7 linked regions of the Homo sapiens genome follow. Changing the gene in region 5 together with the main gene of any one other region gives a genetic interaction. Each region holds a gene or a part of one and is shown on either strand. Other genes may lie near its edges.

Region 1 (3,500 bases), on a different chromosome or scaffold from region 5:
TTTCATATTAACTTATTGTTATTCGCTTATAACTTAATTACCCAGTGGTTGGAGAGTATGGTCTGTCCCAATCTGGATCTGTGAACAGAGACTTGTGTTGTGGCCCCTGTGTGTGCTGGTTTCTGAATGTTCTCTTGTGCTTGAGAAGATTCCGTCTAATCCCCTAGTGCACAGTTCCACATGCCATCCACTTAGCTATACCTGTTGGCCGTGTGGTTAATATTTTGTGTGTCTTTGCTAATTCTTCCTGTTGGCTTAGCCTATTCATACAGTTTCTTAAAAAAACAAAAACAAGAACCAAAACAAAACTCCCCCTCTGATGATGAATTTGTCTGTTTCTCCTTATTTTTTCACTTTTTAGAAAAAAAAAAAGTTTTTTTTTAGAGGAGATTCTGGTTCACATCAGAATTGAGAGGCTATATATATCCCCTACCCACCTCACCGTCACCTCCCCCAGCATCCGCACCCACCAGGGGGTACGTTTCTTACAGTCAGCGAACCTGCTCTGAGCGTCATTACCCTGAGTCCGTGGTTTACTTTAGGGTTCACTCTCAGGATTGTTACATCCTATGGGTTTGGACAAATACTATCTCGTATCCACCATTACGGTATCACACAGAATAGTTTCACTGCCCTGAACATCCTCTGTGCTCCAGCTATTATCCCTTCCTCCCCACCCCAACTCCTGACAGCAGCTAGTCTTTCTACTGTCTCCGTAGTTTTGCCTTTCCCAGAATGTCACATACTTGGAATCCTACAGTGTTGCAGCCATTTCAGATCGGAAAAAATTTTTAAACAGAATACTTCACCTCTGATCACCAAAATGCATAGGGATTTCTTCCTCACCCAGCCCACCTCTGCCCCGACAACCAGTCAGTTCTCTAGCAGGCATCAGCTGGGAGTCCTAAAATTTAATTCATTTCCAACACAGTTTGCCAGGAGGAAGCGTCAGATCTGACAGGTTGAAGGGCTCAGTCCCATAAGACTGTCCCCAATTCAGATGCCAGTTGAAAGTAGTAGTTTGTTACCTATACTTCTGACCTACCAGTTATTGGCCGGGCGCGGTGGCTCACGCCTGAACTCCCAGCACTTTGGGAGGCCGAGATGGGCAGATCATGAGGTCAAGAGATTGAGACCATCCCGGCCAACATGGTGAAACCCCGTCTCTACTGACAATGCAAACATTAGCTGGGCGTGGCGTCACGTGACTGTAATCCCTTCTACTCGGGAGGCTGAGGCAGGAGAATTGCTTGAACCCGGGAGGCGGAGGTTGCAGTGAGCTGAGATTGCACTACTGCACTCCAGCCTGGTGACAGAGCTAGACTCCATCAAGGAAGGAAGGAAGGAAGGAAGGAAGGAAGGAGGGAGGGAGGGAGGGAGGGAGGGAGGGAGGGAGGGAGGGAGGGAGGGAGGGAGGGAGGGAGGGAAGGAAGGAAGGAGAAAGAAAAGAACAGAGTGCACTGGTATATTTTGGAATGCTTCCTTTCCCTTCTTGCTATTGGAAACACAAGGGGATTTTTCTCCAATATTCACTGTGAGGCCTGGTCAGGTTCCTAGAGGTAAAACTCACAAAAGTATGGGGTCCCCTATGACTGGGTCCCTGGGGTTTTCAACTGTCTGACTTGCCTACACCAAGCCTGCAGCAATCTCTGTTACAGTCCTGGTTTTCCTCCCCCAACACTGGTTCCCACAGAATTTTCAGCTTATGAGTCTCTGCTCTGGTAAGTTGTGATTGTCTGTCTTCTCCTGTTGGTCTCTCCAGTTTAGGGGGCAGTGGTTTGCCCTATGACCTAACTTCTCTTATGGATCTAAGAAGAGTTGGTTTTTCAGTTTATTCAGCTTTTTACCTGTTGTTAGGTAGAGTGGCAACTTCCAAGCTCCTGACTTATGTGAAACTGGAAAGCAGAAGTCTCTTATCATTTTGTATTTATGCATTTTGATTGTTGATCTGTATGCTTGACCAGCAACATTGAGTATTCCAGCCCTATCATCAGGCAAGTTTTAGAAACATTATCTTAGAAGTATTGGTGGGAAGCAGCTTTTGTCTATCTTGAAGTGTGTATATTTCCCTGTTTGTTCAAGGTGGTTGCCGTCTTCTGGCTTCCATTGTTGGCTGTTGTTGAAAACATCGGCTGCCCTTCAAATTACTTTTCTTTGATTGGTAAATATGTCTTTTCTATCAGGCGCATTATAAAAGTATTCTCTCTTTTCAGTTTTCTGCTATTTCACAAAGACATTGTAAGAGATTTGTTTTTACTTATCCTATTGGATATTTTGTGTGCTTCCCGGGGCTGGATTGTTGCATGGGTTTTGAGAAATTCTCAGATGTGTCTTCAAGTATCACCTTTACTCGATTCCCTCTCTCCTCTCCTCTGGGTTGCCAATTAGATGTGAGTCTCATCATTTCATCTCATCCTTCTCCGTGTCTCCTAACCTGTCTTTCATAAAATTTTCCTTCTTGTCTCTGTTTCATTTTGGATGACTTCTTCAGTTCTGTCTTCCTGTTCACAAATTCTCCTTCAGACAGGAAGTGAAACAGTCACTCAGTAGGATGGATAAGACTGTTTCGCCTGTTAATAGATTTCATCTCTGCAGGTTCCGTTTGCTTCTATTTTCAGATCCAGCTGGGCCGCTTTGCTGGCCTGTCCCTGCTTGCTATTGCCTGTCATCTGGGAGTCCGTCCTTATGTCTTTAAGCCTGTAATATTTACTGGATTTTATTATGTATCTGATAACTCCTCCATCTGAAGCGTCCATCTGTTTGTCGTTTCTGCTGACTCCCATTCACAGTTGCTCATGTTCTTGGGTGTTTGGTGACCTCGATTAGGATGTCGGTTCTTGCTGGGTCGTGACCTTGGTGATCCTGAGGGCCAGGATGCGCGTTTCCCTGTACTTGGGGCAGGCCCAGTGTTTGCTTTTCGGGCAGCAGACTTGGCAGCCTTTGCTCCCCAGAGCGCACACCCTGCTTTTGGTGCTTGTCTGCCCACTGGATGCCCTGCCGCGGTGGGGAGGGTGTGCTCATTCCTGCAGACGTGCCTTGCCACTTGCAGGCCTGCAATACATTTAACACATCTGTTTGATTCAGGAGCTGTAGGCAGGGATTGCATCAGGAACCTGGCCCACGTGGGCCCTGTGCCCCTTCTCTGTCTGTGTTGTGGCTTTGTCCACCCTGTGTCCTTGCTGTCTGCCAGGCCATTTTCCTACACTTTTTCTCTCCAGCCTTGGTTCTTTGCCTCCCCTTCCCATAGTAGGCCACAGACCATCTGCTTGGTGTCACGCCCTGTCCTGGGTCCACGTCAGTGCATTGAGACTCTAGGTCCCTCCAAGATGGCGGAGGGTAGACATTTCTCTTTTCTGACATGAGTGCAGTTGGGGCGTGTCTCATGCCTAGAGTGTGTGTGGTCAGGACCTGGTTCACATAGGTGCCATGTTTTGCTGGGATTGGTGGTTTTTACTCCCATTCCATGGTGTGTCAAGTGGGGATGGCATCTTCAGTCAATG
Region 2 (3,500 bases), on a different chromosome or scaffold from region 5:
GAGGTTGTAGCGATTCCCAGGTTCATTGGATACCTTAAAATGAGCAAAACAGAACTCCTTATGCTTACTCCTGCAGAGGACCAATTCTAGCACCAGTATTTCTAAACCCTTCTTACACCTTCATGGAAAGGCCAAACATTTATTGTGATTCACTTGCTTGAATTTGTGAGGTTATTTAACAAACACACAGATGCTCCAAAGGTGGTTGTATCAATAAGAGAAATGTGATTTCCCTCAGGAAGCCGAAGCTCAAGGCACAGCTCTAAAGTAAAGTTTATAAAATCAAAATATGCACTGTGCCAATTAAAGATTTGGAGAGAAAGTTGTAGTTGCATGGCATATACAGACTGTAAATATATAACTTTCCAAAATATCCTATAGAGAAATGTAAATCAGCATCCAGGTATTCAGAAAAATCCTAGGAGTACCAACAGCTAATGACTGTCTGTGGTCTACTCTTCTAGTGCTGTCTTGTCCAAAGCTGTAGCAAAATATCACTGATTAAATGAACTAGTAAAATACGTAAATCCAGTTAATCAACCTCACCCAATTGATGGAAATGACAATAAAAGACTAACTCCCAAATGGACCACACACAGGACCATACATAGAAAGTGCTTTATATGGAAGACGTAGATGAGTTTTAAGCCAAACCAATTAACCTGTAGGTTGCTGCGCAGATCAGACAGGAAAGTGACTGGTGATCGAGTTTTAAGATAGGAATCCAAATCCTTTTTGAACTGAGGTGGCATTACTCCAGTGAAATTGGTGAGAATCCGGGGAGCAATGTTAATTTCACTCAACATGTCCACCTGCCACAGATAAAATGCAAGAATCACAAGCAGAATCATTTTTATTAGTAAATTACATCTATGCTTAAGTGGTGGGACTGTTTTTCTAAAACTATATACACTATAAATGCCTTGAAGAGCACAGCTGCCACATTTTATTAATCAGTCTTTCTTTCTTTAGAAGAATCTTGGTTCAAAATGATAAAAATTTCCCACTCTATAATGTATTTCCTTCCCAGAGGCAAGATACCTTTTGGGCAAAGGTCTAATTTGCACAACTAACTGATTTTTCTTGGACTTCGGTTTCAAAATAATAATCCGGAATAAGATTCCTCACTCACCAAGAGTCTTTGAAAAGAAGCCCCAGCAAGACCAGACATCACACTTACTCCTTAAAAAAAAAAAAAAAAAAAAAAAAAATTGAAGCCGGGCGCAGTGGCTCACGCCTGTAAACCCAGCACTTTGGGAGGCCGAGGTAGGCGGATCACCTGAGGTTGGGAGTTCAAGACCACCCTGACCAACATGGAGAAACCCCATCTCTACTAAAAATATAAAATTAGCTGGGTGTGGTGCCTGTAATCCCAGCTGCTCGGGAGTCTGAGGCAGGAGAATCGCCTGAACCCAGGAGGCAGAGGTTGCAGTGAGCCACAGCTCGCGCCATTGCGCTCCAGCCTGGGCAACAAGAACGAAACTCCGTCTCAAAAAAAAAAAAAAAAAAAAAAATGCATGTGTCAGAAAGAGTAGAGACTACATCTAAACTATAGCTGGGCACTTCTAGTGGTGTGCACCTCTAGTCACAGCTACTCTGGAGGCTGAGGCAGGAGGACGGCTTGAGCACAGGAGCCTGAGGCTGAAGTGCACTATGTTCACACCTGTGAATAGTCACTGCCCTTCAGCCTGGGCAAAACAACGAGACCCCTGTCTCTTAAACAAACTATAGTAGCCATGTCAGGGTGGTGAGATTTTAAGTGGTCCTCTCTCTCCTTTATTCCAACAACTTACAAAAAAATACAGTGGGTTCTCCATACCCTTAGGTTCCATATCTAATTAACCTCAAATCGAAAATATGGGGGGTGAAGGTAGAGGTAGATGATGGGGTCAATAAAAAATAATACAACAATAAAGGCCGGGTGCAGTGGCTCATGCCTGTAATCCCAGCATTTTGGGAGGCCAAGGCAGGCAGATCGTGAGGTCAGGAGTTTGAGACCAGCCTGGCCAACTAGTGAAACCCCGTCACTACTAAAAATACAAAAAAAAAAATTAGCCAGGCATGGTGGCGGGCACCTGTAGTACCAGCTACTTGGGAGGCTGAGGCAGGAGAATCACTGGACCCCAGGAGGCGGAAGTTGCAGTGAGCTGAGATTGCGCCACTGCACTCCAGCCTGGGTGACAGAGTGAGACTCTGTCTCAAAAATAAATAAATAAATACAAATAAATAATAATACAACAATAAAAAACACAAATTTTAAAAAGTTATTAATATAGTTTAAAATAGTTATTTCCATAATAGCATTACACTACATTAGGTATCATAAGCACTACAGATGTCATTTAAGGGGATATGCAAAGGTTATATGCCACTTTACATACAGGACTTAAGCATACTTAAAATTTGGTGTCCCAGTGGGTCCTAGAACCAATCCTCCAAGAATAGCAAGGGACCAAGGAACAACTGCACAAGTGCACAGACACAAAACTGTGAAATATGGAGACTATGGCAGGGCGTGGTGGCTCACACCTGTAATCCCAGCACTTTGGGAGGCCGAAGCAGGCAGATTACTTGAGGTGAGGAGCTCAAAACCAACCTGGCTGACATGGCGAAACCCCATCTCCACTAAACACATAATTAGCCAGGTGTGGTGGCGAGTGCCTGTAATCCCAGCTACTTGGGAGGCTGAGGCGGGAGAATAGCTTGAACCAGCGAAGGGGAGGTTGCAGTAAGCCGAGACTGCACCACTGCACTCCAGCCTGGGTCACAGAGTAAGACTCTGCCTCAAAAAAAGAAAAAGATTACAAAGGTCTGTTTGTTCTGCAATTCTTTGCCATGTGGGGCACACCCAGCAAATGACTGCCCCAACACCTAAGCTGTGGTTCTGTAAATAGAGCTAAATTTAATATCAAAATTAATATGAAAACTAGCAACTAGAAAAATGCTGTGAACCAATATTCACCAGCAACAGCAATAGCAACAATATCATACCTTCTATCAGGCTTAATAACATTATTTCCTTTAAAGAGTACCCTTAACTAATAGTGTGCGTGTTATGTTGGGTAGGAAAGTGCTGAACAGTCTACTTATCAGAGAAAGGACTGAAATATTAAGACATAAGTTTTCCTTTAACTAGTTGGAACCTTACCTTTAGATTAGGAGTGAATGGGTCGGGGAGCCTCATGTTTCTTGGAAAGGCACTCAGGATCAAATTTCTTAACTGGATACAATTAGGTGGGATCACATCACAGAACCCATAATGGTAATCACAAAGGAACTCTGGGAAATCATGCAAAAGAACCAGCAGCACTCTTAAAGTGCCCTATTTTTAAAAAACAAGAAAAATATTTCCACACTAAGGAAAATGGAGTAACATTTTCCTATTGTAACTTAAGCCCCCCACCCCCCTCAAAAGAATGAAGTATACTTTAGTAACATTTCTTAAAAAGTTTTAGGCTTTAATTAACATTATCACAGATGATTTATCAAATATTTCCATT
Region 3 (3,500 bases), on a different chromosome or scaffold from region 5:
AAACCTGGAGGGGTGGAGGTTGCAGTGAGCTGAGATTGCACCACTGCACTCCAGCCGGGGTGACAGAGTGAGACTCCATCTCAAAAAAAAAAAAAAAAAAAATTCCAGTAAATAATAGGCTTAAGTGAGGTCTTTTCCCATGAATATAATGCACCAAATTAAAAAAAATCATTAATTGAGGCTTTATTATATGCCAGACACTTTGCTAATTGCTTTATATAAAGTAGCCCATTTAATTTTCTCAGAGTACTTAATGATGTATGTAGCATATCAACATTTTACAACAAAGAAATGCTTAGTCACATTAAATAACTTTCTGAAAGTCATTCAGAACTAGTAAAGTGGCAGAGTTGTTTTCAAAGTCAGTTTTATTTTTTAGTATAGATATCATTTGTTTATTATAGAAGAGACATGGCAATTATTTACATAATTAAATATTTCAGAACTTAAGTGCAATGAGCAGCTTCATGTTGATGGCATTTCAATAGTGATTTACTTCAGTCTACATACTTTCTAAGAATGTCAGCATCTCTAAATAAGAAATAATCTGGCTGGGCATGGTGGCTCACGGCCTGTAATGGCACTTTGGGAGGCCAAGGCGGGCAGATTGCTCAAACCCAGGAGTTCAACGCCAGCTTGGGCAACGTGGCAAAACCCTGTCTCCACAAAAAGATACAAAAATTAGCCAGGTGTGGTGGCTCACCCTTGTAGTCCCAGCTACTTGGGAGGCTGAGGCAGAAGGATCGCTCAAGCCTGGGAAGTTGAGGCTGCAGTGAGCTGAGATCGTGCCACCACAATACCCTGGACAACAGAGACAGAGACCCTGTCTCGAAAAGAAAAAGAAAAAAAAAAAATCCTTGGCCTTCCAGGTCAACTGAATAAACCTGAAGAGTTGCAAAGTAGTTCTTTACTTTTGTGCCTCCATATTCTGGGAGAATAATTCTTTATCTCTAACTTTCACATTAACTGGTTGAATCCACCTTTTCCTTGAAAGCTCAATCCAACAACTACTGTTGCTTGCAATGCTTTACCTTGAGATTTTTCTGGAAGCGTAATGCCTCCTTTGGTTACAGTTTCAGCTGTACTCCTTTCAACCAATACTCCATCAAAGAGCATAAGAAACTTCTAAGTGCCGGTCCTGCTATGACTCCTGCTGCTGTAGCTCATATTCTCCAAACCCAGTTTATTTAATTCTAAATCCTGTGGTTCTAACCACTATATATACTGCAGTATATGAAATGGCCTACTTTTTTAGAAAAATAAAAAAATTGTTCCTAAGTTCTAAATATAGAGAAGTTTGTTAAATAATATCCTACCAAATATGTTAAGTTTTTATGATATTATCAGAAAAAATTCAGTGATACTCTCTTTTTTTTTTTTTTTTTGAGACGGAGTCTCACTCTTTCACCTAGGCTGGAGTGCAGTAGCGCGATCTCGGCTCACTGCAGGCTCTGCCCCCCGGGGCTCATGCCATTCTCCTGCCTCAGCCTCCCGCGCAGCTGGGACTACAGGCGCCCACCACCTCGCCCGGCTAATTTTTTGTATTTTTAGTAGAGACGGGGTTTCACCGTGTTAGCCAGGATGGTCTCGATCTCCTGACCTCATGATCCGCCCGCCTCGGCCTCCCAAAGTGCTGGGATTACAGGCGTAAGCCACCGCGCCCGGCCTCTTTTTTTTTCTCCTAGTATCTACTGCTTTAAAGTAATGCTCTTCTGATTCACTCTGGGAACCTCTCCTCCCCATTTTTAGTCCTTGAGCTCCTGAAGGAGTTTTCTACGCTGCGGCTCAGCAGTAAAGCACTTGCCGTGGCGCAAGCCGCTCATCAAGCTTATTCAGTTGGCCCACACCAGGCCTAAACATGGGCATGTGATTAAGTAAAGCCAGTCAGACACAATGAAGTTTTGCCCGGAAATATGTGAGTGTGAGTGTGTGTGTGTGTGTGTGTGTGTGTATCTTGACCTGGAAATATGTGAGTGTGAGAGTGTGTGTGTGTGTGTGTGTGTGTGTGTATCTTGACCTTCTTTTTGAACATGAAGCTGAGAGACTTGGAGGTCTAAAGCTAAAGCTGCCGTCTTGCTTTCACATGAAGCCTGAAACTAGCGTTAACTAAGATGAAATCAATGCTAAGAGAAAGAAAAAAAAAAAAAAGACCTCATAATATTGGTTGAATGCAAACTTAGCTGTGCCTGAGTTAAGCCCTATTCCTCAACTTTGCAACTTACACAATTCCCTTTCTTGTTTAAGCTCGTTTCATTAGGTATCCTGTTACTTGTAACCAGAGTCCAAGCTGAGACACTTGATACACAAAAATCAATATGTGTATTTTTTTAATCCATAAATCTCCTTATGGCAGGGGCAGATCTCACCCTGATCTGGACACTCTGTTTGCTACTTAGACTTGGTCTCTGTGGGTCATGACACAGATCCTGAATTGGCCTAGAATCCTAATCCAGCTGTGGTGGTGCAGAATCCCACCCTAGCCCTGGTGTCTTGGCCAAGTCAGGTATAGCCTTTCTGTGAAACAGTGTTTCAGATATTAAACGGCTATGAAGCTTAGATAAAATTCAAATGCATTCTTTACAAGTATAGTACTTACAGTAAGCAAGCTAGAAGAACTCAACGTATTCACCCAGTATTTATTCCACAACAGCTCAAGCAATTTGCGATCCAAAGAGGATTTGAAATATGAGACTTCTAAGGCATAATATCTATGAAATAAAAGCATAAAATTTAGTAAGTAAAAAAAAAAATTCAACTACGTCACATAAAACTTATGGCCAGATTTAAGTGAGTTACACTTTATTCTCAAATATTCACATTTTAGTCTTTATTCCAATAAGGCAATAGCTAACCATGGTTTCCTCACACTTCAAGGGTTGTGGATCCAAATCTCCTACTAAACTTCTTGTTTTATTCCTTTTTTTCTGTAGAGCCCAGAAATTCCCCAAATGTTATTAACAACCAGTCAAAACTTCTGAATGACAAGTTTATTCCTGTTACTGAGTTCATAAATTCAAGCCAACAGCACATAAACTTAATAAGCTGCCTCTCTAGGGTCAACTATAATTTTTGTTAGCCTCTTTAAAATAATAAAAATGACATGTGGATTCCATTCTTCCCTTCCTAATTCCCCAGTTAGGACCTACTGCTTTTTGAAAAGCAAATTTTAAGGTAGGTCCTTAAGGCATCTAAAATAATTGCTCCCACTTTCAAAGGTGCCTAATTTATCATCAGGGCATAGTAAGGAAAAATCTAGTTAAATGTCTGAAAAATACATATATTTTTAAGATGTAAACTTACATCTTAAACTTACACATGCTTCTGTGTATCAGTGGATATAAAAAAGCATGAGACATCTTTACCTTAAGGAACTCAACATTTATATGGGGGATGTGGTCTAAACCCACATCAAAATTAAATATAATGATATACATTGAATAACAATAAGTGATGCTACAGTGCTATATAAAATGAATCACCTACCAACTAAGGGTTAGAGA
Region 4 (4,278 bases), on a different chromosome or scaffold from region 5:
AGGCTAAGGAGAGAGGATCTCTTGAGCCCAGGAGTTTAAGATTACAGTGAGCTATAATGACACCACTGTACTCCGGCCTGGACGAGAGTGTCACCCTGTCCCTCAGAGAAAATAATGAAAGTTTTCAAAAATTAAAAAAAATTAAACTTTTAGGTTTTGTGATATTTTTAATAACCTTACAAGTAATGCAAATAGGAAGTATTATGCTTAGGTATGGAATATGGGAAGCTAAATGACTTCTCTGGGATGAAAATGCTTGTCAAAATACCCTAATCAAGAATCAAATTCTGGCCAGGCACAGTAGCTCACGCCTGTAATCCCAGCACTTTGGGAGGCCAAGGCAGGTGAATCACTTGAGGTCTGGAGTTCAAGACTAGCCTGCTGGTGAAACCCCATCTCTACTAAAAATACAAAAATTAGCCGGGCGTGGTGGCAGGCGCCGGTAGTTCCAGCTGCTCGGAAAGCTGAGTGGGAGAATCGCTTGAACAGGGGAGGCAGAGGTTGCAGTGAGCTGAGATTGCACCACTGCACTCCAGCCTGGGCAACAGAGTGAGACTCTATCTCAAAAAAATAAAACAAAATAAAATAAAATAAAATTCTAATATCCTAATGCAGCACAATTTATTGGGACTAAGATTTTCAAAGTTATCCCTGCCACTGACATGGTGTGGCCCTGTGTAAATCGATAAACCTATCCAAATGAAGGATTTCATCTGTTCTTGAGTTCTGCATGAAAAAGGAAAACTACCTGCTTCTATGAACTCATGTAGAAAATGAGAGATTATATGAAAAAGCCACAAGTTCTTTGAATAAAATATTTTTACACAAAAATCTAAGTTGCTATTTTCACCCTTTTAAGATAAAGGGTGAAAACCTTTTAGAAACCTTTAAGAAAAAGGGTGTCCTCTGAAGGGACACCCTTTTTGTCCCTTCAGAGAGAGAGAGGTAGCACAAAGTTCTAAGGGTATCACTCAAGAACATCTGAAGTGAAGCAAACCAGTACAATACTGAGTTAACTAAAGTTCTGAGAATAAAAGGATAGATACCGGGATCCATGATCAACAGTATTCATCCTAAGATTAAGAATTATGGGCATATTCCCCACCTTTTCACCAGCAACAACACAGAGAGACTCAGTGTCTATACACTTCGAATTTCTTAGACATCTTTCCATGAGTCGATTCAACTTCACCAAGAGATCTGACTGCCTATAAGGAGAAAATAGGAATGGGCTAATGTCATGAAATATAACACCAGGTATTAAAACAAAAGCTCACTGCTGTTAGGTTCTCCTATGACTAAAGCAACTTAAGAAAAAGATTTAAATACCTGCCAGGTTCGAAAGCTGGAGCGGCCATCTGAGAGAGTTCAAGGTTAAAAAAAAGAATACCTTCTGTTGCCCGATTGAGTTTTGGAGACACAAGTTCACAGGAAACCTGTCCAAGAACTCTGCAAAGATAAAGTTACAAAGTATTAACCAAATAGACTCTCCTTCCAAAACAAAAAACTGAAACAGATAACAAGTTTCAATCTTAATGTGAGTAATATCATACTCAGCCAAATAAATCATAGGAGATAAAAATTATATGTAAAGTATAATATACACAGAAATAAAACATAAATTGGTACAACTAAAAACACGACAGAAAAAACACCTCTCTTCTTATTACAATGTTTACTATTCCACAGATTGTTTTAAAAATCAGTGACCTTTACCTCTAAAGCAAGTATTTATTGATACAAGATGGCATGAAAACCTGAGATTTCTTAAAGGTTTTCACATGGCATAGTTCACCACCATTATGTGACCAAATAGCCTCACAACTTTCAAATGAATATCTGAAAACCTAATTTTCATGTCACTCAGGAAAAAGAAAGCAGGATGTACACTTAATGACAAGATGCTCAAGATCTCTATATTAGTGTGAGAAACAAATTCCATATGATCACTACTAGTTGTCTATACGATTTATAGAAGTCAGAAAAGAACTATGTGATACGTGACAGAAAATACGTTTATGATTAAAAAGTTCAAGTGTGACCACAAAAGCAAAAAATCTCGCATAAAAAAATACTTATTTTTGTCAGCTAAACAAAGAATACTGTCCAGACTTCTTAGCTGCTTTATAAACAACCAAGTCAATAAGGTCTTTTTTCAAACTTCTCCCTTCCGAATGTGTATCTCATTTAAATCCTGTTACCTTGTTTTTCCAAGTTCCACAATGCAGCATCCGTAATCTGTTCCAAATGAGATCCTGATGTTCCTATAATCATAGGTTTGTCTGCCATCCAGCCGCTGTAAGCACAAATTCATTCATTAATTTATTCCTTCAACAAGTATTTCTTAAGCAACTACTTTTTGTCTGGCCCTGGGCTAAGCACTTGGGGGAAAGTGGAATCCTAACCAGCCCGCCCATACAGGAAAGTGGAAACTACAGCATGGACAACTGCTGCGGTGACTGGAGCCTTGAAAAGAACCTGTCGAAAAAAAATAAATAAAGCCTGAGGGATGGGGTGAACGTGCCGGTCGTTCCCCTAGTAGCTCCCCGGGCCCAGGCGGGCCAGGTATCAGTCCACACCTTGAGACCCGAGCGCCCACGCAGCGCGCAATTCTGCGGGCACCAAACCATACCTTCTTCTCTTCGATGGCACGGAGTAGGAAGCGGCGTTCGCAGTTTGAGAGTGGCGTTTCCTTCATGGTGTTGGGTCACCGGCCCCACAGGCACCAGAATCCGCGGGAAAAACGGAACCCGATCTTTCCTTGCGCGCCGCTGCTCGCCCCGAGGCGCAGGAAAATTACGTCATCAAGGCGCGGCGGCGGAAAAATGGGAAATGGCTTGGGCTGCAGCTACTGCGCAGACTCAAAGCGTGATTGGGGAAGGCCAGCGAGCTGCGAGAAGCCATTGCGGCTTTGGGAGGCCGTTTCTGAACGTGAAGTTCCGTTTCTTTTCTCATAAAGTGCAGAGGAGAAAAGGATACTTAAAATAACCATGAGAGTGATAGAAATTATTATCAGTAGACCGCTCGCACACTTCACCCTTTGCTCAGTCCTCTCACGGGGTGGAGACTAGACATGTACTTCTGCAATTTCACAGATGAGTTGACATTGGTCCCTGGAAAGCCGCAGATGCAGGATTTGGAGCAGATTAAATGAACAAACACTGGAATGAGGCGGCATAAGGGTTGGGGGAGAAAGATAAATTGGTGAAATGGGATGTTTTTGTGGCCAAAGGTGAAATCTTGTGGGATCTGAGAAGTTGATGAGAATGGAGAATGTTCGCACGTAGTAACTAACGATGTTACTACTACTGTGGACTGAAAGTAAATGCACCGTTTATTTCTTATCCCCTCTCCAGTTATTTTAAGTCGATAGACTTTTTTTTACGGTCACAGAGAAGCCTTAGCGGGGCCATGCTGCCAACCACTCAGCTTTTTTGGAGAGGCAGTATCAAATAGTAGTTTTAAAAAGTGTTCACTGCCAGGGTTCAAATTTTAAGGCTATCATTAACTACTATAACCCTGGGCAAGTTAACCTGTGTGCTTCACATTACTCACCGGCAAAAAAAAAACAAAAACAAAAACAAAGCAGGGGAAGTGAGAAACCTATTTATTCTGAGGAATAAAAATGAGTTAATATATACATAAAATGTTTAGAACAGTGCCTGGCATGGAATAAGCACTATTTAAGTGTTTGCATATTATTATTTTGTTTCCTTTTGCTTTAGAGGTGGTAGGCACTGTAACTCCTACGCAGTCTTTCTCTGGCTTCTTTGGTAGCTTCTCACAAGTTTTTTCTACCAGTGATACATTTTAGTCTCACTTTGTACCACTTGCAATCCATGTACTCAATAAATACTTGAAGAGGGCCTACTCTGTCCAAGAATAATTTAAGTGCTGGAGAAACAGGGTAGACAAGATCCTTTCAAGGAATTTATATTCTTTTTGGAAAAGGCAAAAAACCCTAAACAAATAGAACAATTTCATACAGTGTTAAGTGCTCTCTGAGAATAGGAATGCTATCTTAATAGGGGTAGTTGCAGGAACAGGTGACTTTGTAGCGGTGACATTAAAGTAAAGTAAATCTTTGGTGTTGAGCAGGAGCACCCTTGATGCCATCTGGAGAGGAAAAGTGTTTCAAGCAGAAAGAGTAACATATGCAAAAACTGAGATGAGATGAGCTCCACATGGTCTGGAGAGAGAAATTGTGAAGAAGGAGGAAAGTGGACAGAAATGATTAATTTTCAAAATCGGCAAGGGGATTACAGGGTACTAACCACT
Region 5 (3,500 bases):
ATTTGAAAAGTGTGTTATATGTAGTCCAATGTCTTCAATTAATACTCTAATTCTGACTTATCTTTAAATACAAGACTACCTTCTTTAAAAATATCTAATTTTGCTAGGTATTAAAGTTGTTAACATTTTTGTAGCTATAAGTAATGTTAGTAGATTTATAATTTCCAACAAATTAAACACCAAAAATATGACTACAGTATAACCTAAAGCACCTAGTGAATGAATTTTCATGCTTAGGCTTGCTTACCCTATTTTCAATAATATCAAACCAATTACAGCTTCCTACATCTATTATACATTTCTTACTTTGTTATCTTTGAATATTATTTCCTCTATGTCTAAAATGCTCTTCTCCCACACCCTGACCCTGTAGAATTTTTATTCATTTTTTTTAAAGTCACATTTAAATCCGTGATAAGATACCCAATTCCCAGAAAAATCTAGATATACCATGGCTGTCAGTATTTAAATAGATTCATTTGCAGAAAGGGATGTACAAAGACATTATTGGTTGAATTACAGTGATGACATTTTGTGTATTTCTTTAAAAAATAAACATAAAAATATACAAAATATCTACATACATTAAGTATCTCTGAATACAGAAAAAACAGTTCATATCATTTTGAGTTATGTCAACAGAAAATTTACCTTGCCTTCGGTAACCATTCGTAGAGTATCAATTAATCGAAGTTTGATAGGAAGGTCTGTGATTTCCTCAACATAAGTACAGCACTGTTGAACCATTTTGGCAACAGCCTAAAATATTAAAAACCATTCATAAGTAAAATACATTCCTCACAGAGCGAAAAAATGTATTTTATTGATCAAAGAGCAATGATCGAACTTGGTCTTCCCAAGTAACTCTAGACACCAAAATGTCATAAAGAACATCACATCGAAATCTCACTGATACCTAAAAAGTACCGAGTACCCCGTAACAAGTCAGTAAAGGTCAGGAAAACCTCAGATGCAGAGATGCAGCCAAGCAGGAAAACATGGAAGAAATGGCATCTGACTAGGGGAAGAGAAAGCAGAGGTCCACAGCGGCTTGAAGCCATGACCTGCAGACACTGTGACTGAGGAGGAAAAAGGCAGTGGCAGAGGCAAAAGGCGAAACGGTTCTACCACCCGGGTGGGAGGAAGAGCCACAGTCACCCAAATTCACCTCAATACCATGTGACACTGAGAGCCAGAGACCCTCATGCCTTCAGTTTCCTCACAGGTTATATCAAGGGGCTAGAATACACTCCCTTCAGCACTAACATTCTATGATCCAGGTCACAAATCAGCAAACATTTTCTGTAAATTTTTGCAAATGTTCATAAAGTAGTTATTTTAGACTTTGTGGGCCAGTCTCTGTGGCAACTATTCAACTCTGCCTCCTTAAAAACAAATGAGTGTGGCTGTGTCCCAATGACTTTATTTATAAAAATAGGAGGCGGGTGGGATTTGATTTGTGTCCCATCATTTGCCAATGTTTGATCTAGATTTTAAGCAATATATGATAATCACTAACAATCAGGACCATGGGTCAGGCGTGGTGGCTCACACCTGTAATCCCAGCACTCTGGGAGGCAGAGATGGGCGGGTCACAAGGTCAGGAGATCGAGACCAACCTGGCTAACATGGTGAAACCCCGTCTCTACTAAAAATACAAAAAAATTAACCAGGCGTGGTGGCGGATGCCTGTAGTTCCAGCTACTTGGAAGGCTGAGGCAGGAGAATGGTGTGAACCCGGGAGGCGGAGCTTGCAGTAAGCCAAGATCGCGCCACTGCACTTCAGCCTGGGAGACAGATCGAGACTTGTCTCAAAATAATAATAATAATAATAATAATAATAATAATAATAATTAGGACCATGAGTCATCAAGAAAATGTTAAATTACATTAAGTATATTTTGGTTAAGGCAGCAGAAAAGTGAATAGAATATCTTAGAAAGATTTCCACGAAAAACATTTAATGTTTAAGCAGCTCAGGCTAAATGTTTTTGTTGTGGAGGTGGTTTTATTTTATTTTAGATTCAGGGGGTACATGTGGAGGTTTGTTTCATGAATATATTGTATAGTGGTGAGGTATGGGCCTCTAGCGAACCTATCACCCAAACAGTGAACATTGCACCCAATAGGTAATTTTGGATACACAGGTAACCCTCACCTCCTTTCATCCTCCCTGCTTTTGGAGTCCTCAGCGTCTGTTATTTCCACCTTTTTTTTTTTTTAATTAAAAACATTTTTTTGGCTGGGTACGGTGGCTCATGCCCGTAATCCCAGACTTTGGGAGGCTGAGGCCGGCGGATCACGAGGTCAAGAGATCGAGACCATTCTGGCCAACATGGCAAAACCCAGTCTCTACTAAAAATACAAAAATTAGCCGGGTGTGGTGGTGCATGCCTGTAGTCCCAGCTACTCAGGAGTCTAAGACAGGAGAATTGCTTGAACCCAGTGAGCCAAGATCGCACCACTGCACTCCAGCCTGGCGACAAGAGCGAGAATCTCTCTCAAAAAAAAAAAAAAAAAAATTTTTTTTAAAGAGATGGGGCCTCATTTTGTCACCCAGGCTGGAGTGCACTGGCATGACCACAGCTCACTGCTACCTCAAATTCCTGGGCTCATGTGATCTTCCCACCTCAGCCTCTTGGGCAGCTGGGACTACAGGTATGTGCCACCACACTCAGCTAATATTTTTAAAGTTTTTTTGTAAAGACAGGGGTCTCACCATCTTCATGCCCATGTGCACCTACTGTTTAACTTCCATTTATCAATGAGAACAAGCAGTATTAAACTTTTAACTATCTGAAACACTGGCTATTTAGAGACCCAGGCATTCTGGAAAGCTATGGTTTTATTGTAAACTATAACTCTTTCAATAAGTTCAAGGCCCTAGGACATGTAGTGTCTCACAAAACATAGGATGCCTGTAAAGTTAATTATAATAATAATTTCTAGAAGAGCACACAACTTGATAATTCTAAAAGCTGTGCAAAAAATACATTAACAGAAATCAGATGGGGTTAAAAACAACAACTACAGTAGTCTCCACTTACGAAGGTTTTGCTTTCCAGTTTCAGTTAGCCATGGTCAACTGTGGTGTGAAAATATTAAATGGAAAACTCCATGTATAAACAATCTATAAGCTTTAAGCTGCACACCATTCTGAGTAGTGATGAAATCAAATGCAGTCCCTCAAATCACCCTTCGGTCCAGTGTCTCCACACTACCCACCCTAGTCACTCAGTAGCCATCTCAGTCTCATGTGATCCACTGTATCCAGGGCAGTGCTTGTGCTCAAGCAACCCTTATTATACTTCACAATGGCTTCAAAACCCAAGAGTGGTGATGCTGGCCATTTGTATATGCCAAAGCGAAGCCATAAAGTGCCTCCTTTAAATGAAAAGGTGAAAGTTCTCAACAAGGAAAAAGCATAGTGGATATATGGTTTTGTACTATCTGTGGTTTCTGGTCTCCAGAGAGGATTTTTGGACATATTCCTTATGGAC
Region 6 (3,500 bases), on a different chromosome or scaffold from region 5:
TGTGCAAGGTTGGAAATGTAAAATGGTGCAGCTGCTATTAAAAAAAACATACAGAAGTTCCTCAAAAAATTAAAAATAGAATTACCATGTAATACCACTTCTGGGTACATATCCAAAAGAAAATGGAAACAGGATTTTGAAGAGATATTTGCACACCCATGTTCACTGCAGCATTATTCACAATAGCCAACAGGTGGGAGCAACCTAAACTTCCATCGCCAGATGGCTGGATAAGGAAAATGTGGTATATACAGATGATGAATTATTATTCAGCCTTAAGAAAAAAGAAGAAAATCCTGTCATTGCTACAACATGGATGAACTTTTAGGACATTATGCTAAATAACATAAGTCACTCACAAAATAATAAATGCCACATGATTCCACTAACATGAGGTATCTGTAGTCAGACTCTTGGAAACACAAAGTAGAATGGTGGTTGCGGGGATGAAAGAGGTGGAAAAAGGGATTGTTCGATGGATACAGAGTTTGAGCTTTGCAAGATGAAATAGTTCTAGAAACCTACTGCACAATATGCATACACTTAACACTACTGTAATGTATACTTAAAATTTTTATGTGCTTTTTACAATAAAAAGTTACACAGAAAATGAAACCAGGGATTTCAAACAAGTGAGAAGTTATTTTCAACTTGATTTTTAAAAAATCTTCTAGATGCTGATTTTAGCCTTTGATGTGAGCTTTTAACTACTCTCAGCCTTTGCTAACAAAGGAACTACACCTATAGTACAAAAATAAAATTTCTGAAATGCTTGAGGAGTATCTTCTTTCTGAAGCAGAAAATTGAACTCCATCTCTTTCTAAACACTGACTTATTCAAAAGAGGATAGAAGGGAATGGATAACAGACACATAAGGATGATCTTTGTCCCTCAAAACTTTATTTAGCAAGCTGATTTCATGTTGACAAAGTCAACATCAGCACAGTTCCTATCCAATCTATGACAAATCAGAATCACAAATTCCAAATAAGTAAAGGCCAAACTAATGATGTCTATAGTATAAACCCTCATTTCCCAGAATTTATATAATTTTCCCAAAGTATCAGACATCAAGTGAAGTAGGCTAGCCTGACAGATTCCCAATTCACACATTATCAAAAGTTATGGTGAGACCTGTGTCAATATCCATTTGTATGCACTGCAAAGACACACTTGTGATGAACACCCTTACCTTCATCAAAGTCAGCATCATCCTCTGTGTGCTGAGGGAAAGGAAAGCAGTTGGTAATTTCAAGCCGATCTTCTACAACCAGACCCAAAAGCACTCCTTGAACAACTTCAGTTCCTTGTCCTTCTTCTTGATAATGTTTGATTATCTTTAATACCACCTAAAACATACACACACAGAAGGGAGCTTAACAACCATCCTAGTTTATTATTTCCTTTATTTCTAAGAAAAAACAAAAGAAACTGTACTAGGTTTGCAAAACCACAAATTAAATAAGAGGAATAAATAAATGTCTTACAAATCCTTTCCTTTACCCTTACATAAATAATAAAGCTCACATAATCTAAACGCAGATCTGAAACTCCAGGAGTTTGATTACATGTCAAAAACGTCCATCTACAGCAGTTATGCTCTTAAATCAAAGCTTCCCCATGGTCTGGCATCCAGGAGTTCCTTCAGCCAAATCAAAGAATACCCCCTCAACCTGAGGCTATTATTGAGAAAGTGATCCTGTTAATAGACACATAAATGACAAAACTATCAATAAGACACAGAGATAAAGGTCTCAATTATCGGGACACCTGAAAGCAGAGCCTTCTGATAAATTCTCATTTTGCCTTTCTCAACAGATCATCTCCATAGTCAGAGGATGCAACAACGGGAACACGTACCCACACATATCCAACAACAATCTGGTTGGTATAGTCTCCAGCATGATCTAGTTTTCCTCAACCAGAAGGATTCACTAAGCAACCTCTAATGGAATAACCAGGTCTTCTACTACTCTCTCCTTTAATATTCCCATAAAGATAAGAGGTAACACCGTGCACAGGTGGACAAGAAATTAAAGTCTGCAATAATCATAATCATTAATAATTCCTACAACATGGCGTTAATATATGTAAAGTGTTTTATAGTGCCTGGCACATATTAATAATAATAGCATTAATATTTAATATGAGCCCATGGCCTGAAGACCCAAAAGGCAACACATTCAAAATTGTAATGTAAAGTTCTCAGAGGAAAAATAATTCTAACAAGAAAATGACAATTTATTTGTACGTTATTAGTGTTTCATTTAAAACAAATATATTATTGTTAGAAACGAAGTAATGGGTGGGCCAGGCACACACAGGGTGAGCAGCTACTTCTGTGTGCAGCCTGAGCCCACAGGTCAGCTCAGCCACACGGATGGTGAAGAAACAGCCTAAGAGAGAATCAATGCGGTTGTCAGCTAAACCTGCTCCCGCCAAAGTGGAAACGAAGCTAAAAAAAGGCAGCAGGAAAGGATAAATCTTCAGACAAAAAAGTGCAAACAAAGGGAAAAAGGGAGCAAAGGGAAAACAGGCCAAAGTGGCTAACCAGGAAACTAAAGAAATTTACCTGCACAAAACGAAGAAACTAAAACTGAGAAGAGTCCAGCCTCTGATGACGCCAGAGATAAAGAAGCCAAGTTTGACTGATATCATAACACACTGTATCTTATCAGTGGTCCCTATTTCCCATCTTGTACAACCCAGAGGAATACTGTTACCAACTATTTTGTAAACACAGGTTTGTGTGAGATACTGAATTATGGGAGGGTTTGACTGTCCTGAGTGTCAGCTTAACATTCCATAGTTGGGGGGTTAGTTTTTATATCCTGTAATACAAAGCATACTAAATGGCAATATGGAGTTGCAGTCCTGCATTTAATGTCTTGAACATTTTAAATTACTTTCATTCCCACATTATTTTTTAGTAGAATTGTTTCCTAAAGAAAAACACTCTTTGATCATGGCTCTCCCTGTCATAATTCTGTGCACTGTAACATCTTTGGTCGTGGTAGTCCTGCTTTTCTAATGAACTTTGTTAATGTGCTGTGGAAGATTGAAAATTTGAGTATGTAGTCTATATGGTATTATACTGTGAATTGGTGAGATCTATGTAACAGCTTACTAACATGTGAAGATACTGGTACTTGATAGCCTCTTATGGAAAATTTGCTTCCCAATTTTAAGCTGGAAAGTCACTGAAATAACTTTTTAAAAATTACAACACATGGCTTTTTAGATTTTCAGTATATATGTTAAGAATTGTGTACAAATTGAAATGTCTGTGTACTGATCATCAACACGACCAATAAACCAATTATGAAAGAAAAAAAGAAACTAATGACCAGTTAATAACAGCACATTACATTTACTAAACATTGTATGACAGGCAATAATCTAATTATTTCACATGTATTACCCTATCATGTAATTCTCACAACCACCTTAGGAGAAAGGTACTGTTAATACTCATTTTATAGATAAGAAAACTGAGGCAG
Region 7 (3,500 bases), on a different chromosome or scaffold from region 5:
TATGTATATTGGTTTTAACAGCTTTGTTGAAAGATACACGTACCATACAATTCACCCATTTAAAATGTACAATTCAGTGTTTTTCTGTATGTTCACAAAGTTGTGCAACCATTACCACAATCTAATTTTAGAACATTTTTATCACTCCTAAAAGAAACTTTGTACCTATTAGGAGTCACTCTTCTTCCCCCAGTCATTCCCAGCTCTAGGCAATCATTAGTCTACTTTCATCTCTATAGATTTGCCTATTCTGGACATGATATGAATGGAACATATAATATGCAGTCTTTTGTGGCTGACTTCTTCCACTTAACATATTTTAAAGGTTCATCCATATTGTAGCATGTGTTTGCGTCATTCCTTTGTATTGTCAAATACTATGGCAAATAGATACACCACATTTATTCATCCATTAATCGGTTGGACATTTGGGCTGTTTCCATGTTTTGGCTATTAAGAATAATGCTGCTGTGAACATTTGTGTACATGTTTTTGAGCAGACATGTCTTCCAAGAGGCTGTACCATTTTACATTCCAACCAGCAATGTATGCGGTTTACCATTTCTCCACATCCTTGTCAATGCTAGTTATTTTCTGTATTTTTTATCATAGCCATCCTAGTGGGAGTTACGTGGTATTTCAATGTGGCTTTGATTTTCATTTCCCAAATGGATAATGATGTTGATGAGCATCTTTTAATGTGCTTATTACACATGCACGAAATGTCTATGCAGATCCTTTGCCTTTTTTTTTTTTTTGAGATAGAGTCTTGCTCTGTCGCCCAGGCTGGAGTGCAGTGGTGCGATCTTGGCTCACTGCAAGCTCTGCCTCCTGGGTTCACGCCATACTCCTGCCTCAGCCTCCCGAGTAGCTGGGACTACAGGCGCCCGCCACCACACCCAGCTAATTTTTTGTATTTTTAGTAGAGATGGGGTTTCACCATGTTCGCCAGGATGGTCTCGATCTCCTGACCTTGTGATCCACCTGCCTCGGCCTCCCAAAGTGCTGGGATTACAGGTGTGAACCACTGCGCCCGGCCTTTGCCCATTTTTTAATTGGGTTATTTGTTTTTATTACTGAGTTTTTAAAGTTCTTCATATGTTCTAGATATAAGTACCTTTTTAGGTATATGATTTGTAAATATTTTCTCCCACGTTGCGGGTTATTACCTTCTGTACATTGATTTTTGGTAATCTGCCATTAAAGTTTTTCTCCCACCAAAAGTGGCATTAACATAATTGTATGAAAATTATACCAAGAAAACAGATTTCAAGTATTAATGGTAGAAGGGATCTCAGAGTCTTTTAGTCCACCTCCCAGTCTTCATTTCACATAAAAATACATTAGGTGCTATAGCGGTTGTGACTGACTGCACCATCAATTTAAGGTGCATATCAAAAATTAGTCATTCACTTTCACAAATTTTGAAATGTGCTCATGTAAAATTTACACATATGTCTAGGTACCACCAATGTAATCCTGGACCTTTGCCACCTAAGGAGCATAAGTAGTTGATTAAATCCCTGTTTACCTCAGGCAGGATAGTCTTCTAACATGAAAAGTTGACAATTTGGCAGAAATACACTTGATCTTAGCCAAAAGGCTGAGGAGCGATGGCAGAAATACATATTTAAAATAATACATGCTATGGAGGAGGGAGGGCAAATTTACTTACTCTGAGCGACTTCCTGACACAGTTAATTGAGCAAAATTTTTCACTTTCTCTCGAACTACTTGTATTCCACGTTCATCAGATGCATTTAACTCAAGAACTCTTAATCGGAAAAGTTCAGGCCTATCTCAAAATGAAACAAATATGAAACATAGAGCACAAGTAGGCTTAAATCACATTTTAACATTTGCACACTTTGCAGACGTTTAAAATCCACCTAGTAAACAACATGGATAGAAGGCACACAATCACTTTTGCATTCTCGCTTCAGCAGAGTGCTGCAGTTAACATTTTGGCTTTTTTCCATGCATTTAAAAAAATGTAGACATTACATAACATATACAATTTCTTTTCTTTTTATTTTTTTGGAGACAAGGTCTTGCTCTGTCACTCAGGCTGGAGAACAGTGGCATGATGATGGCTCACTGCAGCCTTGAACTCCTGGGCTCAAATGATCCTCCCACCTTAGCTTCCCAACTAGCTGGGACTATAGGCACATGCCATCACACCTGGCTAATTTTGTTTACTTTTTGTAGAGGCAGGGACTCATTATGTGGCCAGGCTGGTCTCAGGTGATCCTTCCACCTTGGCCTCCCAAAATGTTGGGATTACAGGTGTGAGGCACCACACCTGGCCCCACATATAAAATTTTAAATCGATTTTCCACTTTGCATTTATAATAAGTATCTTGGCATATTATCAAAACCACTGTAAATAACATTTTAATAGTCATATGATATTCCATCCTATGACTGTACCATCATTTACTTCACATTCTTCTATTGTTAGACATCTAGATAGTTTTAAATACTGTAATTTTAAATAATGTTATAATATAGCACATTTTAAATTATTTCCGGCCGGATGTGGTGGCTCATGCCTGTAATCCCAGCACTTTGGGAGGCCGAGGCGGGTGGATCACGAGGTCAGGAGTTCGAGACCAGCCTGACCAACGTGGTGAAACCCTGTCTCTACTAAAAATACAAAAATTAGCTGGGCGTGGTTACAGGCACCTGTAGTGCCAGCTACTCAGGAGGCTGAGGCAGGAGGATTGCTTGAACCCGGGATGTGGAGGTTGCAGTGAGCCGAGATCGCACCACTGCACTCCAGCCTGGGCAATAGAGCGAGACACTGTCTCAAAAATAAATAAATAAACAAATAAATAAATAAATTCCACAGGGTAGTTTGCTATAAGGAAACCTACTGGATTAAGGAAAATTAATGGATTAAAACATGAGCAGGTTTTTAAAGTGAGTTTTAATAAAAATTACTAAAAGTAATATATGCTTACTGTAGAGAAATTTGAGAAATCAAAAGAAAAAAGTGGGCACACTGTCAAAGCACTGTTTTTGAAACTTCCCTCTAGTCTTTTACACACACACACACACACACACACACACATTTAAATAAAAAACAAGAGTTGTGATTTAGTTTCATCTCTATTTTTCCTAATCAGCATGGTATCCTAAGCATGTTTATGGACATAAACATTTACATGCATCTATTTTCTATTTTAAAGCCACAATATTAAATATGAAATTCACTGTTAAAGTAAGTTCTTTAAAGACAAACATTATTTCATAAAGGATATAGAAAAAGTTGTATAATCTGGACTGACCTACTCTAAGTAATAATAAACAACTGTTAAGGCTGATTCAGATTGGTTCTATCTGATTGAGTTGTGGAATAATCAAAAAAGTTCTTCTATAATTTTACTGAGAATAAAAAATTGCTGTCAAATAAAATATTAGGCACATAGCAGCTTCTCCCTTTGTCTTTTACATTTTGACATAACTAATAATCCTTACACATTTGGTGATTTCAGTGG

What was found.
Region 1: changes in PSMD12 (region 5) and CARS1 together harm fitness less than expected from each alone (positive genetic interaction), as found in Homo sapiens cells (one large-scale study listed by BioGRID).
Region 2: changes in PSMD12 (region 5) and CNOT1 together harm fitness less than expected from each alone (positive genetic interaction), as found in Homo sapiens cells (one large-scale study listed by BioGRID).
Region 3: changes in PSMD12 (region 5) and COPS5 together harm fitness less than expected from each alone (positive genetic interaction), as found in Homo sapiens cells (one large-scale study listed by BioGRID).
Region 4: changes in PSMD12 (region 5) and EXOSC9 together harm fitness more than expected from each alone (negative genetic interaction), as found in Homo sapiens cells (one large-scale study listed by BioGRID).
Region 6: changes in PSMD12 (region 5) and EIF3H together harm fitness more than expected from each alone (negative genetic interaction), as found in Homo sapiens cells (one large-scale study listed by BioGRID).
Region 7: changes in PSMD12 (region 5) and RFC4 together harm fitness less than expected from each alone (positive genetic interaction), as found in Homo sapiens cells (one large-scale study listed by BioGRID).

Annotation. Positions count from the first base shown.
Region 1 is NC_000011.10:3,029,924-3,033,423, reverse strand, and holds part of CARS1 (cysteine--tRNA ligase, cytoplasmic), read left to right. Parts: intron 1-1,847; exon of another isoform or gene 1,848-3,500. UniProt on the Homo sapiens protein: Catalyzes the ATP-dependent ligation of cysteine to tRNA(Cys).
Region 2 is NC_000016.10:58,525,327-58,528,826, forward strand, and holds part of CNOT1 (CCR4-NOT transcription complex subunit 1), read right to left. Parts: intron 3,323-3,500; coding exon 3,149-3,322; intron 2,780-3,148; exon of another isoform or gene 2,597-2,779; intron 813-2,596; coding exon 663-812; intron 34-662; coding exon 1-33.
Region 3 is NC_000008.11:67,048,634-67,052,133, forward strand, and holds part of COPS5 (COP9 signalosome complex subunit 5), read right to left. Parts: intron 2,709-3,500; coding exon 2,597-2,708; intron 1-2,596. UniProt on the Homo sapiens protein: Probable protease subunit of the COP9 signalosome complex (CSN), a complex involved in various cellular and developmental processes.
Region 4 is NC_000004.12:121,799,845-121,804,122, reverse strand, and holds the start of EXOSC9 (exosome complex component RRP45), read right to left. Parts: upstream 2,801-4,278; 5' UTR 2,699-2,800; coding exon 2,633-2,698; intron 2,297-2,632; coding exon 2,202-2,296; intron 1,450-2,201; coding exon 1,330-1,449; intron 1,209-1,329; coding exon 1,106-1,208; intron 1-1,105. UniProt on the Homo sapiens protein: Non-catalytic component of the RNA exosome complex which has 3'->5' exoribonuclease activity and participates in a multitude of cellular RNA processing and degradation events.
Region 5 is NC_000017.11:67,349,578-67,353,077, forward strand, and holds part of PSMD12 (26S proteasome non-ATPase regulatory subunit 12), read right to left. Parts: intron 760-3,500; coding exon 652-759; intron 1-651. UniProt on the Homo sapiens protein: Component of the 26S proteasome, a multiprotein complex involved in the ATP-dependent degradation of ubiquitinated proteins.
Region 6 is NC_000008.11:116,724,824-116,728,323, forward strand, and holds part of EIF3H (eukaryotic translation initiation factor 3 subunit H), read right to left. Parts: intron 1,350-3,500; coding exon 1,193-1,349; intron 1-1,192.
Region 7 is NC_000003.12:186,792,983-186,796,482, forward strand, and holds part of RFC4 (replication factor C subunit 4), read right to left. Parts: intron 1,796-3,500; coding exon 1,676-1,795; intron 1-1,675. UniProt on the Homo sapiens protein: Subunit of the replication factor C (RFC) complex which acts during elongation of primed DNA templates by DNA polymerases delta and epsilon, and is necessary for ATP-dependent loading of proliferating cell nuclear antigen (PCNA) onto primed DNA.